Regions from separate parts of the Homo sapiens genome. Here region 1 is linked to region 2. The links come from fine-mapping of genetic effects on gene expression. A gene starts in region 2. The other region holds a variant in brackets. All regions are shown on one strand. Distances are from middle to middle.

Evidence for each region.
Region 1: its variant is fine-mapped to the expression of CACNA2D3 in whole blood (TOPMed, PIP 0.98).

Annotation. Positions count from the first base shown.
Region 1 is chr3:55,007,719-55,010,625 of GRCh38, reverse strand. It overlaps CACNA2D3 (calcium voltage-gated channel auxiliary subunit alpha2delta 3), which reads right to left. Exons shown (of 38, transcript NM_018398.3): 33 at 2,784-2,836; 34 at 1,183-1,238. Among named protein-coding and RNA genes, the nearest start is that of LRTM1, 81 kb to the right of the region's middle. The variant C/A (reference allele first, on the strand shown) is at 1,238.
Region 2 is chr3:54,121,066-54,123,972 of GRCh38, reverse strand. CACNA2D3 (calcium voltage-gated channel auxiliary subunit alpha2delta 3) reads right to left here and starts at 1,421. Exons shown (of 38, transcript NM_018398.3): 1 at 1,138-1,421; 2 at 379-460. The coding sequence starts at 1,259. LOC124909381 (a long non-coding RNA gene) reads left to right here and starts at 531. Exons shown (of 2, transcript XR_007095914.1): 1 at 531-916. RefSeq lists a silencer at 2,615-2,664.

The DNA of each region.
Region 1 (2,907 bases), 890 kb before region 2:
AGCCTACTAGTCCCTGGCCTCCCAAGTAGGAAAATGAACATGAATGAAGGAAAGAAAGAACAGAGTGTATCTGAGAAATAGCACATGAGTGGGCAGGCCTGGGGCAGACTGCTGGAGCCAGCGTTCATTAAGGATCACTGGATTTGGAGGCGATCATCATCATTGTCATGGTCACAGTGTCACCACCATTATAATTACGGATACTCTTTCTTTTATTTATTTATTTTCCTTCCAACTTTTATTTTAGGTGTGGAGGGTACATGCAGGTTTTTTATACGGGTCAACTGCATGTCTCGAGGGTTTGGTGTACAGATTATTTCATCATCCTGGTAGTGAACGTAGTACCCGATAGGTAGTTTTTTCATCCTCACCCTCCTCCCACCCTCCACCTCAAGTAGGCCCCAGTGTCTGCTGTTCCCTTCTTTGTGTCCATGTGTACTCAGTGTTTACCTTACTTATACATGAGAACATGCAGTATTGCTACTATTTTTTGAGGACTTATGTTCCAGTCACTGTGGTCAGCACGTAATATGATTTCTCACAGCATTAAACATACATGCACACACACACATTCACTTGCTAAGATAAATATTATTTTTCCCCATTGTGCTTAGCATAGGGAAACTGAGCCTTGGAGACAGATCAGCTGATATGCCCAAGGCCAACCTCTAAGCTGGGACTGAAACCTATTCTAACTCCACAACCCATGCCTCCAAGAGTCTCTACTAATTACACCCTCCTCAAATCATCAAAGGTATTTGAGAAGGGATAGTAATGTGGTCAGATTTATGTTCTATGAGGGTAACTGTGAAAACAGAAATAGAATGGCTAATCATTCATTTAGCCTGAGACACAGGCAGTGTGTCTGTCTCCCTTCTATTTCAGCATTGCCCATGAGCTTTCTGAAGAATTTACCTGTGCAATGTATGACCTCAAAGCCTTAGTTAAGGAAACAGGTCAAGATGTACATTCAACGTGGGCTGAATGAAGCCTGTGGAATTCTGTGTCAGACTAGATAGCACAGCACTTAGCACAAAGGCTGGCTTTTTGCTGACAGAGCTGAAAAATCATCACTTTGTCCTGGGGAATTTTCTGTGAGCCAGCACATCCCTGATGAAAAGTAGCCAGTGAACCCAGCGCTTATCCCTCCAAGCTGGGAAACAGAAACCAGTTGCTGCTCACCTTTAGCTGTCATATCGGAGTGCCACCAACTGCAGAGGTTAAATTCCACCAGGAA[C/A]CTAAACAGATCGTGGAAAAGCCCAATGTTACTTCGTCATCCATGCCCATATCACAGAACAGTGACTTTCTGTATTCTTTGGCATCGCTTACCTCATTTGAGAACATCACAATTTGGAGATATCAACACAGTTGGCTGAGTTACTACTAAATTTTCACAGGGGTTTATCTTTCTTGTGAAAGGCTATTTTATCCCTAAAGCCAGGTTCACCTAGACTCAAAGATTCCTAGATGAGGAATAACCTGCTGTATAGGCTGAAATACTTTTCTCGTTGTTGTTCACCAGTTGTTCAATCTTAATATCATCTAGTTTGATTCCACAGTAAAAAGCCAATTTCTAATAAGCTTCTCTTCCCTTAGTTCAGAAATACAAATAGAATATTCTCCTCTACCAAGACTATGAACTGTAGTAATAAAACATGCTTTCAAAATGAATACTGCGACTTGAACTTGTTTAAGCCCCCTGTGTGTGTGTGTGTGTGTGTGTGTGTGTGTGTGTGTATAGAGGGAGGTGGAACAGACTTCTCTCTATGAAATTATGTCACAATGGAACTTCATAAAAATCAACATTTCTCAATGGCTGGTAAAGACTACAAAAATAATATAAATTATCCTCCAGTGGATGAAGAGAGATCAAAATTTGGTCATTTGTTTTTCAGGCTTATGGCTACTATTCCTAGCAGCTCTCTCTCAATCAAAATCCCACTATTATCTGTTAATGTTCTTTCTCTGCCTCATGTGTATATGGAGAATTTACTTCCCATTTGAATTCACAAACTTTATTAAATTAATATAGGTTACATTAAGTTAAGAGGACAGTGACTATCCATCAAATGGCATGAAATTTGCCTCAAACCCACAGAACTGGAGTCTGTAGGAAATAAGCAGGGGAAATAAGAATGAGAGAGTTTGGTACAACTTAAACAATCTTGTTTACATGTTCATCTATGTAATTCTTCCCTTTTGTGTGACACGGTGTTTCTGTAATGTGTCTAATATCTAGTCTGAAAGTCAAGACTTTCATCTTTGTGCCATTTCAAGTGTTATCTAAGTCATAGATGCAACCAGCACCTCCAAACAAGACCATAGTTTGACAGAATAAACAATGAAATCATACCTGAGAAAGCCCCCAGCCCTAGCTGACAATCTCACAGGCACCCATTCCTGCACAGGCCAAGACAGCCAAAGTGGCATGGTGGACAGTCACAGCAGTGTGCTCTTCTGACCACAGCCCACCCAGGCTGCAGTAAAATCAGCCAGACATCCATGTGAAATTGAGCAGTAACCACAATAAGTAAATTTGTTGTGTATTGCAAATGATCTGCTAAACGATGACCTAATAGCATAAGGAGTGATCAACAGTCACTTAATAGAAGATCATTTTTTGGTCTCTGTGTTCAATATTTTGAGATGTTCAATGAAGTTATCTCAGAGTACTAGGAATCTAATGGTTATTGAAGGCATGACTCACAATCTCTTAGATCACTTTATGATACAAAAAGGAAAATATTAATACTTTTCAAAAAAATGCAGCAGATTTTACTTACAAGACAAGTTCTGTCATGATCCATTTTACTGCAGAGAGGAAGGCATTATAAGGCTGAAGAGAAGAATTCAGTTCATTAAAAACAATGTAGTGCACACAAAATTTGTAGCTTAATTTAGGGCTTT
Region 2 (2,907 bases):
GGCATCACAAAATAGGCACTGAGTCTGCCCCTTGGATGAAGTTAGCATTTTTTGGCCCGAGGAGCATCTGCTCTGGCACTGAAACAGCAATACCGACACGGAGACGAGAGCCATGCAAAAACACTCAGTTTCCGAGCCCCAGCCAGGACAGTGCGAGTGAGTATCCTGCTTTTCTTTGTGGTTAGAATCAAGTGTCATCTAAAAATAACCGGTTGGTAGGAAGAAGTCACTGCATAGTACAATGCCAAGAAACCCGGGGATCAGAGAGTCCTCCGATAACTGATGCTGCTCGGGGCTCACGTTTGTTTGGAAAACTAAATCTGCCTCCATTTTCTGTGCCGGAAAAATCATCGCTTCCTGCCACCACAGAAACCTTACCTTTTGCAGAAGCTGGGAACCGGAGTACTTAGCAGCAATGGATTTTATCTCCCCACCAAAAGCCGAGGCCCAGAGCTTCACCCTACAGGGAGAAGGGGCACAGGAAGATATGTAACACCCGTGTCACAGTCAACACGCACGCACACGCACACGCACACATGGGACTATGGCTGAAGGAGCAGTGCGATGTAACATGTTTTAAAAGAAGAAAAGATAGAAAAAGCGGCTTGGTAGAAACTGCCAGCACCAAAACTGCAAAGCGCAGCGCGGGAGGGGGCCCGAGGGGGGTCGCGGAGTTAAGAATGCGCAAAGTCTCCCAGGCTCTCTAAAAAGACCACTGAGTTTCATTCGAACCACTGCCCGAGGACTCGACCCCCCAAACTGGGCATCACCTGGCAAATAGCAGTCAGAAGAAATCCACCCATCCCCCCCCCAAAAAAAGAAGTGGGGCGGCAGTAGAGCAAAGAGGGGGGAAATTCAGCGGCCCATGGAAGTTGGATTCGGTAACCAGGCTCCAAAGTTGGTGCCGTCACTTGAGGTGAGCCTCTCCAGATCTCACTCGGCAACCTGCGGGCAGGGGCCAGAGCATCCCACCCCGGCCTCGCCGCCCGACGCGGGTCCCGAAAGGCAGGTGCGAGCGGCGAGGCCGACGCCCGCGGCGGGTCCTGCCCAGCCGCACCTGCAGGCGCCCAAACTTGGGCACAGTGGGTCGCAGGCGGCAAGGTCCCCTCCCCGGGCGGCGCAGGAGCCGGCACTTACACGGAGAGCGGTATCTGCTGCTCCGAGCGCACCACGTCCCCCAGCGCGGCGTAGAGAAGCGCGGCAGCGAGAAGCGCCGAGGCCCCCCGGGACGCGCGGCGCGGCGAGCCCGGCCCGGCCATGCTGGGCTCCCTCCGACGCGCCCGCTGCGGCGGCGACGAGAGCGGCCGCGGGGAGCTGCGCGGAGCGGGCGGTGGGCGAGCGCGCGGGGCTGCCTGCTCCGCTCCGCGCCGCCCCGCCTGCCTCTCGCGCGCCCGGCTCACTTGGGGAGCAGAAAAAGGAGCGGGTGGGGGGGGCGGGGAGGGCGGAGAGGAGAGGGAGGGAGGAGAGGTGGGGAGGGAGGGAGGAGAGGTGGGGAGGGAGGCGGGCGGGGGAGGAGGCAGCGAGACGCGCCTCTAGCAGCAGCAGCCGCCCGGCCCCGCCTCGGCGGCCCCGGGGAGTCCGGCGGGCCGCGGCGGGAGGGCGGCGGGGCAGGAGGCGCCGCGCGGGCGGGGACTCGGAAACTCCAGTGTCCTTGGCCGCGGCGGAGCGCGCCCTGCCCCACCCGGGCTACTGCGGCCGCTGAGTTCTTTACAACTCCGCAGTCCGCCACCGCGGGCGCGACTCTGGGGCTGGCCCCGGGCCGGGCGACCCTAGCCAGGGTGGGGGTTGGGGGCGCGGGAGGGAAGCCGAGGGCAGGGCGCGGCGCTCCGCACTTTGCGGGCGGCTGCTAGGAGAGGGCGTAGCATGCCCGCTCCGCCCCTGGGCCGGGCGGGGTCGGGGGCCGCGGAACCTAAAGGGGGCGCGCCCTCCGCCCCCGCCGCGCGATTCTCCTGCGGGGAGGGAGCTGGGGAAGAAGCAGAAATCTCAGAAAGGAGCACAGGCTCGCGGCGGCAGGCGGGATCGCACGCGGGGCGGATCGGGCTGGGGATGGGACTGGGTGGGAGCTCGGGGCTCTGGCTAGGGCAGCGCTGCGTGACCGCCCGCAGCTGCTCCTCCGGCCGCGGCGCCCGACAGGGGAAAGCACGGAGGGCGGTGCTGCCACCACGGCTTGGGCGCACCAGCGCGGGGCTCCCGGCATCCGGCCGCAGCGCAGCGGCCCCCTGCGCGCCCGACCCAGGCCCCGGGGCTCCCCAGCGGCCGCTGCCTTCGGAGTCCGCCCGGCTGCGGTGACTGGTGGGGACCGGGATGTCAGGGTTGAGCGAGGAAGCCAACGCGGCGCCGAGTCGATCCTGACCGGGGGACACCCTGGATTTCGGGATAAAAGATTTCTCCGAGCCTGGGGGATTGCCTGCTCCCCACTCCGGCGCCCACCGCACTGGGCAGGAGGCAGTGAGCGCCGGAGGAGGCGCCTTCTCGCCGCCCTCAGGGGCGAGGAGAAAGGAAGCCGGAGAAGCCCCTGCGCGTTCTGGGAACCAGGCTTCTCCCCGCCTCTCTCGCCGCTGCCCCCACCCCGGGACCCAGCTTGCAGAACCCCTCTCCCCCGTGCGAGGTATGGGGTGTGATTGGGAACTTTGTGGAGCCCTCGCGCAGGCTGGCGGTAAAGACCGACCGGAGTGAGGCTGAGTCATCCTTGCCCGGCCAAGCGCAACTCCGGTGACCCCAGCAAGGAGTGCGCTCCTAACGTCGCCGGGGCTCCCGGCGCACCAGACACCTGGGTTCATATTTGCATGCCTTTCTGCAACCAGGGCTTTGCTTTCTGCCCCGTCACCCGCCCTTGGCCTCAGCATCCTCAGGTTGCAGGGAAGTAAGGGCGGGCTCCAGCTTCCGCCAGGTGGTGTCCGGCTAGGA